3 separate regions of the Homo sapiens genome follow, and regions 1 and 3 are each reported to be linked to region 2. Evidence: microRNA targets listed by miRTarBase, many of them from high-throughput screens and not tested one by one. Region 2 holds a microRNA gene; each other region holds the end of a gene's coding sequence.
Evidence for each region. Region 2 holds the annotated microRNA hsa-miR-548ay-3p (CAAAACCGCGAUUACUCUUGCA, at 950-971, shown strand). A microRNA usually pairs through its seed, bases 2 to 8, with sites in the 3' UTR of a target mRNA and lowers its output. Matches are read on the target gene's strand: a 7mer-m8 pairs with bases 2 to 8, a 7mer-A1 pairs with bases 2 to 7 and ends in A, and an 8mer does both.

Region 1: miRTarBase lists RIPPLY3 as a target of hsa-miR-548ay-3p. The part of its 3' UTR that is shown has no 7-base or 8-base seed match.
Region 3: miRTarBase lists PCGF2 as a target of hsa-miR-548ay-3p. Seed matches in the 3' UTR shown: 7mer-A1 at 2,921-2,927.

Annotation. Positions count from the first base shown.
Region 1 is chr21:37,017,817-37,020,816 of GRCh38, forward strand. RIPPLY3 (ripply transcriptional repressor 3) reads left to right here. Exons shown (of 4, transcript NM_018962.3): 4 at 58-1,846. The coding sequence ends at 391. Among named protein-coding and RNA genes, the nearest start is that of RIPPLY3, 13 kb to the left of the region's middle.
Region 2 is chr3:32,503,928-32,507,275 of GRCh38, reverse strand. MIR548AY (microRNA 548ay) reads left to right here and starts at 887; the gene lies at 887-993.
Region 3 is chr17:38,732,178-38,735,483 of GRCh38, forward strand. It overlaps PCGF2 (polycomb group ring finger 2), which reads right to left. Exons shown (of 11, transcript NM_007144.3): 11 at 1,721-3,306. The coding sequence ends at 3,046. CISD3 (CDGSH iron sulfur domain 3) reads left to right here. Exons shown (of 4, transcript NM_001136498.2): 4 at 1,099-3,306. The coding sequence ends at 1,278. Among named protein-coding and RNA genes, the nearest start is that of CISD3, 3.5 kb to the left of the region's middle. RefSeq lists an enhancer at 2,746-3,273.

The sequences.
Region 1 (3,000 bases), not on the chromosome of region 2:
AGCAATTTAGGACGAGGTTCAGGTTGATTAATGGTATATTTGTTTCTTAAATATTAGAGTCTATTTACCCATGTCAAAGCGTCAAGAATACCTGCGGAGTTCCGGGGAGCAAGTACTGGCCAGTTTCCCAGTGCAAGCCACGATTGACTTCTACGACGATGAGTCTACTGAGTCTGCTTCCGAAGCTGAAGAGCCAGAGGAAGGACCCCCACCCCTCCATCTTCTGCCCCAGGAGGTGGGAGGTCGGCAGGAAAATGGCCCAGGGGGAAAGGGCAGAGACCAGGGCATCAACCAAGGGCAGCGATCCTCAGGAGGGGGTGACCACTGGGGGGAGGGTCCGCTCCCTCAAGGTGTCTCCTCAAGGGGTGGCAAGTGCTCCTCATCCAAATGAATCAGTCTCTGTCTCCTGGGCCCTGCTCTGGGACCTGCCCCTCACGTTCTCTTGGGGACACCCGAGCCAGGACACTACGCATCCCTGCTGAGTGTGCAGAGGCTAGAGGCTTCTCGGGCAGCCCCTGGCCTGCACACTACTCATGACAGAAAGTCAGCTTTTACTTTTCTTTCCCCTGGCAATTCGTTTTTGGTGCACTCATGCATGCCTTTGAGAAAGGATTCTAGGAGAAAGAGAAGGTCTATGTCAACAGAGTTGTTATCTCATAGAGCCAGTTTTCAAAGCTCCTTCTGCATTGTCACTCACTGATCAGGTGATGAATTCTTCCTAGATAGTCGCCCACTCCACCTCCTACTTAACCTGAGACTCATTATTTAGCTATTTCTGCTTTTGTAAAAATAATTCAGATATTAAACTCCAATTTTAATCTATCATCCAAGGGTAGATGTAGTTGCTTAGTAGCATTTTGGAAAAAAAAGAAAAAAAGGTTTGGTTTGGTTTTGTGACGGAGTTTTGCTCTTGTCTCCCAGGCTGGAGTGCAGTGACACAATCTCGGCTCACTGCAACCTCCACTTCTTGGGTTCAAGTGATTCTCCTGTCTCAGCCTCCCAAGTAGCTGGGATTACAGGCATGAGCTACCACGCCTGGCTAATTTTTTGTATTTTTAGTAGAGACTCGGTTTCACCATGTTGGTCAGGCTGGCTTTGAACTCCTGACCTCAGGTGATCCACCCGCCTTGGCCTCCCAAAGTGCTGGGATTACAGGCGTGAGCCACTGAGCCCGGCCAAAAAAAAATGTATTTATTAAAAAAAAATTTTTTTAACCCGCCGAATAATTCCCATAAGAGTAACAAAAAGGACCAGCCTGACCAACGTGGAGAAACTCTGTCTCTACTAAAAATACAAAATTAGCCAGGCGTGATGGCTCATGCCTGTAATCCCAGCTACTCGGGAGGCTGAGGCAGGAGAATGGCTAGAACCCGGGAGGCGGAGGTTGCCGTGAGTCGAGATCGCACCATTGCATTCCAGCCTGGGCAACAAGAGCGAAACTCCGTCTCAAAAAAAAAAAAAAAAAAAAAGAAAGAAAAGAGTAACAGAAAGATAGGGATTTTTAGGAGACAATTAGATAAAAATGTATGTGATGACTGTATAAGGAGGCCTGTGTGTATGAATTTATAGGGAGTAGAACCGTCTCTCTTCTTAGTTGGTGACTGTTTGGGGCCTGGTATTTTAATAGATGAACACTACTTTTTTAATTTTTTATTTTTTTAACCCTACCCTTAACCCATGAACACTATTTTTAATTAAAGTATCTGATGTAAAATTATTTTGAGTTTTTAATATTTTGATAAACGTGTATTCCTGAAACTTTTTGACTTACTTATCTTACATGTGGTGTCTTCCTGTATATAGTACATTATATCAATTTCTACTTGAAATAAATATTTTGAAAGAATGTTTGATAATCACCCTTTTTTGCTTAAGACATTTTTAGAATTAAATAGTTTCTGCTTTAAGGTTTTTTCATTTTTCATGGTTTTTAAAAATAATTCTTTTAAAATTATAACCTATTATTTTATTTCAGTATTCTGTTTTATTTTTTAAAATTTTAGACACAGGGTCTTGCTCCGTCCCTGGCTGGAGTGCAGTGGCTCAATAATAGCTCACTGCAGCCTTGAACTCCTGGGCTCAAGGAATCCTCCCACCTCAGCCTTCGCAGTAGGTAGGACAACAGGCGTGAGCCACCATGCCCAGCAATGTTTTTTGAGACGGAGTTTCGCTCTTGTCACCCAGGCTGGAGTGCAATGGCACAATCTCGGCTCACTGCAACCTCTGCCTCACAGGTTCAGTCGATTCTCCTACCTTGGCCTCCTGAGTAGCTGGGATTACCGGCACGTGCCACCAAGCCTGGCTAATTTTGTATTTTTAGTAGAGATGGGGTTTTACCATGTTGGCCAGGCTGGTCTCAAACTCCTGACCTCAGGTGATCCACCCACCTCGGCCTCCCAAGGTGCTGGGATTACAGGCATGAACCACCATGCCCAGCCACCCAGTTAATTAAAAAAAATTTTTTTTTTGTAGATACAGGTTCTCAATACATTGCCAAGGCTGCTCTTGAACTCCTGGCCTCAAGCTATCGTCTTACCTAGGCCTCCTAAAGCACTGGAACTACAGGAATGAGCCACCATACTAGGCCCAATATATTAAAAAGTAGGAGTAATGAATGGAAATACTTTCAGCAATCCAAACACTATAGAAAGTACACATTGCAAAGTAAAATCACATTCTGCTCTTCCCCCTTTCCTTTGTCTAAAGATAACAAACATCAATTGTGTTTTATGGCTTCAGTCTTTTGAAAAATTCCTTTTTTGTGTGTTTTTCTTTTCTGGGCCTTTTTTTCTTTTAAAATGTTTACTTTTTTGTGTTTTGAACAAATTTGGCTACTTTTTCATTTAAAAATTAAAAATTATATTTTATTGTTTCTTTTACTTGTTTAAAGTACATCTTTTCAGACTTAAAAACAATTAAACCTGGGTCAATTTCAGAAAGGATTTAAGATGACCCCGAATTTTGCTGGCTTTTCACAGAAAAATGCTAGAAGTCTTATCC
Region 2 (3,348 bases):
GAAAAATATCCCCAAGGAAAAGCTCCGATCATTTCACTCCCCTTCCTAAAACTCGTTGGGGGTTCTTCATTACCCAACAATAATGGAAAGGCCCAGTTCCTTAGCTTGATTTTCAAAGCCTTCCAAAATTTGATCTCGAGCTTATATTCCTTAACTACTCTGTCCTTTCCTGCTCCCTTCATTCACTGTGCCTATGCACACTTTCTTTGCCTTCCTTCATACCACCCTACTGCCTGAATACTTTCTGCCCTGTATCTGCATGTCCAAACCGAAGTATAGTTTAACCCCATCTTGAAGCTCCACTGTAGTGATCCTTTAAACTGAAAGTTATTTCTCTCTGCTCCGAATTAGCAACATATTTAATTTGTATCTCTTCTATAACACATATCTCTTTCTATTTTGTAACATAGTTCTTTGTGGACATTACTGTGGTATCATTGTAGGATAGCGTCTATAATCTAACTTTGTATCCACAGTATTGCCTAACTGTGCTAATACCGATAAGAGGGCCAGTGAAAAATTGTTTAGCAGGAACTGCTGAAAAAAATTAAACTCTGAACTGAAAAAGTAGTACTGAGGCAGGATAGGCAGTCAAGGAAGTGCCCATATCCTCAGGACGCAGCAACCATGGTGACCCCAACAGTCAACACAATAAGCCTCAGCATTTGAATTGTGATTGAACTCAGTCGAGCAAAGCTATCTTCAGTAGGAAATTTCTTCTATAGAGAGCATGAGCACTTTGATTTTACCTGTCCTCAAACTGACCTTTTGCTCATTATAATAGCAAAAAACATGCCCTTGGGTGGAGATTTACAATGCTAATGGGACACCTGAGGGAGGAACATGGGTGCACAGCTACTGCACATGTGCAGCCAGAGGACCAACCAGAAGATGCTTACTACTAGGTTGGTGCAAAAGTAATTGTGGTTTTTGCATTTAAAGTAATGGCCAAAACCGCGATTACTCTTGCACGAACCTAACGGTAACACTTCTTCCCACCTCCTTATGAATAATCATGCAAATAATACATGATTAGCAATAACCTCCAGCAATAATCAATGTTGTCTCATCCTTACGAGCAGCCTGCCCTGAATTCTCTCTCTCTCTCAGGGTGTGATGTCTATTTTGTACTTAGCTTTCAAAATTTTTTTTTCTTTTGCAATAAATTATGCTGCATCTCTTTTGCTGTATGTCTCTTGTTTAAATTCTTTTAAACTAAGAAGACAAGAACCAAGGTCTTGCAACAGCCTCCAACACTACCACATTATTTTTTGAATGGCTGAAGTCCCATCAAATTATGTTCCCCAATCGCTCTCTCTTCTTGTGAATGTTTTTCTTTCTTTTTTTAAAAAATTAAATATCTAATTTTAAAGGAGAACAGTGAATATTCTTTAAAACCTAAATTTAGTGTATCTTCCTTTCTTCTTTTTGTCGTATTTTTTTCACCATACGTAAGATTTCTCATTTCAACATAGTGAGTCCCACCATTTGACTATTGCAAGTTGTTTTATTCATTAATGAGGGTGACAGTTTTCTGTGTGAATATGCCCATCAAAAGAGTTTCCTATACAAGTATTTGCTCATGAAGCACTAACATTTTTATTTGGTCTTTCAATTTATGAAGAAAATGTAAGGGATGCCCATTTCTTTACCTGGGTGAAATATTAGTCTCTAAATCCCAGGCACCCCCAAATCAATCAGAGCAAAGAAAATATGGCACGTCTACTGTCTACTACACAATGGCTTTCACTTTTATCACATTATAAAACAGTGTTTCTCTATGTGGATGGATTTCTTCCCAGATTCACATGAAGAGCTTGTTACGAAAGTATATTCCCAAGCCCCATCTACATTCAGAATCTTTGGGGCTAGATCTCCAAGAATCTTCCTTTTTAATTAATCTCACAGATGATTCTTCGCCATGTTGGAGTTTATGAATCACAGGCTAAATTTGTGTCTTCTTCTAAAAATGCAAAGAGAAGCAGAGACCCCTAGAGAATTGCATAAGTGTGCCCTAAACAAACCAAGAGGGTTGACGAAGTCTGTTCATCTTCTCTCTTGTCTCAAAGTATCCTTGTTTCTTTGTAACTTCCTCCCAATACTTTATTTTGAAAATGTTCAAACATACAGAAATGCTGAAATAATTGTACAGTGGACACCCGTATACTTCACCTAAATATTACCATTAATATGTTACTGCAGTTGCTTTATTAGAGATCCTTGTTGTTGTTGTTTTTTTAACAATGATTTTTTTTTTTGAGACGGAGTCTCGGTCTGTCGCCCAGGCTGGAGTGCAATGGTGTGATCTCGGCTCACTGCAAGCTCCGCCTCCCAGGTTCACGCCATTCTCCTGCCTCAGCCTCCCGAGTAGCTGGGACTACAGGCGCCCGCCACCACGCCCGGCTAATTTTTTGTATTTTTAGTAGAGATGGAGTTTCACCGTGTTAGCCAGGATGGTCTTGATTTCCTGACCTCGTGATCCGTCCCCCTCGGCCTCCCAGAGTGTTGGGATTACAGGCGTGAGCTACCGCGACCGGCCTGCTTTTTTTTTTTTTTGAGACGGAGTCTCACTCTGTTGCCCAGACCGGAGTGCCGTAGCGCGATCTCAGCTCACTGCCACCTCCACCTCCCGGGTTTGAGCGATTCTCCTGCCTCAGCCTCCCGAGTAGCTGGGATTACAGGCACACGCCACCACGCCCGGCTAATTTTTGTATTTTTAGTAGAGACGGGGTTTCACCATGTTGGTCAGTCTGGTTTCGAACCCCTGACTTCAGGTGATCCACCTGCCTCGGCCTCCCGAAGTGCTGGAATTACAGGCGTGAGCCACTGCGCCTGGCCTATCACAAATCTTTTATCCATCTCTCTAGTCATCAACTCATCTTAATTTTGGATGAATTTCAAAGGAACTTTTAGACATCAGTAGTGTCTAATTTGGGATGATAGTGACTTGAAGAATAATGGGGCAATGAATCCTTGTAGCCCTGGTGAAAATACAGTGGCCTTCCTTGTTGGACAGAATTGGTGGCATCTTGGCCTTGGGAGGACATTCAGAGTGCATGTAATCAGAGACAGAAGGGTAGTTCTGGCTGGTTGTAGGTGGCCCCTGCAGGGCAGTATCTACTTGTCTCTATTCATTTGAATGGGAGCTTTTGTTTGTTACTGGAAGAAGAAAGGGAGGTTTGGGGCCACGGAGAAGATGTAGCAGCTGATGGCAGCAGAAACCCCTTCTCTCTTCCATGGGTTTTGAGACTCCAATGGAGAGATGAGTTAGAAGCTGACGTTTTCTGGGTTAGCGTTTAGCAGCAAGGTTTCGAGTCAGACTGCTTAGGCCTGCATTCCAGCTGCTCC
Region 3 (3,306 bases), not on the chromosome of region 2:
TCTGACTGGTATTCCTTCAAGCTATGTGGCATGGTGTCAGCAGCCCAGGGTCCTTGAGTCCCACTTAGGTCCATGCACCTCAAGCCCTCTAAGACAAGTTGCTGGTTTCTATTTGCACGCTTCTCTCATCTCCTTTCCATCCCACCCTAACTCCAATGTCAAGAGGCCTTGGTTCAGCCAGGCGAGGTGGCTCACCTGTAATCCCAGCACTTTGCGAGGCCAAGGCAGGAGGCTCTTTTGAGTCCAGGAGTTCAAGAACAGTCTGGGCAACAAAGTTGAGACCCCGCTTCTACAAATGCCTCTACCCCCACCAAAGACTAGCATGGAGGCAGGCCTGTGTTCCCAGCCATACTGGAGGCTGAGGAAGGAGGACCGCTTGACCCCAGGAGGTTGAGGCTACAGTGAGCCGTGTTTGCATCACTGCACTCCAGCCTGGGCAACAGAGTGAGACCCTGTCAAAAAAAAAGGCCTTGGCACCAGCTCTGCCTTCAGCTAGCAAGGCATGTCACCTTTCTGGGCCTGTTTCCATTACCCAGTCTCTGCTTGAGCGGCTTCTGGGATGGGGAGTACACTTCTGTGCCAGCCAGCCAGTTTGCTATGGGGCATCCCCTCCTCCTTGTAACCTTCACTCCCTGTCACGTGCCCAGTTATTCCCTGGAGCCAAACAAAATTGCTACCACAGTGTACTCTCCAGCCCAAAGAAGTTTTAACCCAGGAACATGGGAAGTAAATGAATTTCATGATCCAGTGGAGACTCAGAGACACACACACACACACACACACACACACACTCACACTCTATTAGTGTCCTGGCCCTCTGGGTGTCCCAGAGACTAATGCTATAAAGACTCTGTAAATACTTACCAGACACTTACTATAGGCAAAGTGCATCACGATCATATTTTATTTCCTCATACAACTCTACTCTTATCACCCCCACATTACAGATAAGAGAGGTCACTCAGTGAGCCTTGGCAGTCTTGCTCTGGAGCCTGTACCCTAACCACTGTGCTCCACTCCCCCTGAGCTCCTGCAGCCTGCCCTGCCCTGCCCCAGCAGGTGGGGTCAGGTCTTTGACTCCTGTCTTTCCCCCACCAGCCCTTCTGTGACGGCTCCCACTTCTTCCAACGCACTGGCCTATCTCCACTCAAGTTCAAGGCCCAAGAGACCCGCATGGTGGCACTCTGTACCTGCAAGGCCACTCAGAGGCCCCCGTACTGCGATGGCACCCACAGGAGTGAGCGCGTGCAGAAGGCAGAAGTGGGCTCCCCACTCTGAGGGGGCTGCTGCTGTCCAGCCACAGGTGGCCTTGGCTCCAGGCCTCTGACAGGCACCCCCTTCTGTGGGAAAGGAAACAGGTGCTGAGCCCAAGAGACTCTGGTACCCACTGCTGGCTCATGAAGGAAGAATTATTCCTTATAACCTAAAAGTCTCCAGTCTGGGGCAGGCGGGAGTGGGCCCTGGTTCAATGTTTGCTGATGGGGAAGATGGCAAAAACAAGCCTGCCCAACCAGACTGGTAGTCCTGCAGTCACTGCTATGAGGCCCACGTGCTGCCTCCTGCTCCAGATTTTAACCTCTCTGTGGGCTGGGGGCACCTGACCAGCCACAGGAGAGGGCAGTTCAGATTCATTCTGTATGGGGTCCCCAAGCCAGGCTAAACCCAGAGATGAGAGGCACCCTTCCCTTCTTCCCTCCACCCCAAAGAACTACAGGCTCCAGAAAGTATGCAGCATTTATTACAAAGCCAAGAGATACAGATGTCCCAGGGCAAAGGAGGGTACAGTCACAGGACCTCAGACACAGGACAAGGTGCAAACACAGACAAGCCCATCAGGGGGCTCCCAACCCCACACACCTACGCTATGATGGAATCTCGAGTCTCGACTCCCGACTCCTCTCAGATCTATGCACACTTGAGGAAATCTCGGTGGGCAGCGACCTGCCAGGGTCTGTCCCTAAGGAGGTGGTCCGCTGACCTCTCAAGGGGTGGGGGTGGGGTCAGAGCTTACAGGTTTCTGTCTTCTTGTGCTTTTAGATGCAGTTGCTCTGTCCTGACCAGGTGACCGGGCCTCAGCTGGGGGTGGAGGGGCAATTGGAAGGCTGTTTGCCTCTGGCAAAGTCTGGGATCTGTGCTTGTGTGAGGTTAACCCACCCCCACTTCCACTCTAGGCCCCAGGTGAGACTCCACCACCAGTCCTGCTAGTGAGGGTTCCCCGGTGAGGGTAAGGTTGGTGGGGGTGCAGCGCTTCACAATGCTAAAGCCTTAGCCCTCCTCCAAGAGCTGAGACCTCTCAGGGCCTGAATCTTCTTTTCCACAAGATAAATGATGCAAAGGCCACACACACAGGAAAAAAAAAAAAAGAGGCAGAACTATCTATTCTTTGCACAAAGTTTCCACTGCAAGAGGAGGAGGTGATGCAGGTGCCACCTCCACCCTGCACTTGCTCCTCAGAACCAGGGATAAACTGCATTTGTAAAAGGCACTGTTCTTAGCAATTTCTGGACATTCAACAACGTGGGGGGCGGCCACTGGTCAGAGGCAGGACAGCAGCCAAGATGGGGAGAGAAACGGGGAGAGAAAGAAACGATTCTAACTGACTCCTATATGCAGCCAGTTGGAATCATGCCTAAAGCTTTGGGTCTGAAGGGGCCCCCAACACACCACCTGCCTTGGGAAACAGCGAGGATGGTGCAGAGCTTTATTGAGACTCCAGTGGCCCATCCAGTTCATCTCCAGGCACCCCCAAAAACAGCAAATTACACAAGACCCCCCCCAAAAAAAATGAACACCATTTTCCACACATACACACACACATAAAGTTTGTTTCCTGTGGCATTTAAATTAATCTGGTTGGTCCATAGAAAATAAGTATGTATATTTGGTTTTTCCTATGTACATATATATATATATTTATTTATAAAACCCGCCCCCCACCCCCAAGGTGGGAAGAGCTGGGGAAAGTAGAAGAGGTGGAAAAAAGGGCCCAGAAAAAGTGGAAGGAGTGGAGAGGCTTGGCTGGAAGAAGGGAGAGGGTCCCTGGCCTCAAGTTAAGGGGGGCACGGGAGCGCCGTTGACAGTCATCTTGCGCCCCCTGCTGGTGGAGGATGGTGTCTGCAGGCAGTTCAAGCTACCCCCGTTGGCAGCTGTGGTGGCCCCACTGGCTGTCGAAGGGGGAGTGGGGGAGGTAGGGTGGGTGGCTGGAGGCCCATGGGAACTGGGAGAGCCATGGGATGGGGTGGCTGGGCTGGGCAGGGAGGAGGAGGTGGCTGGCAGGGTGGCAGGGCTGGGAGCCTTGTCGCTGAC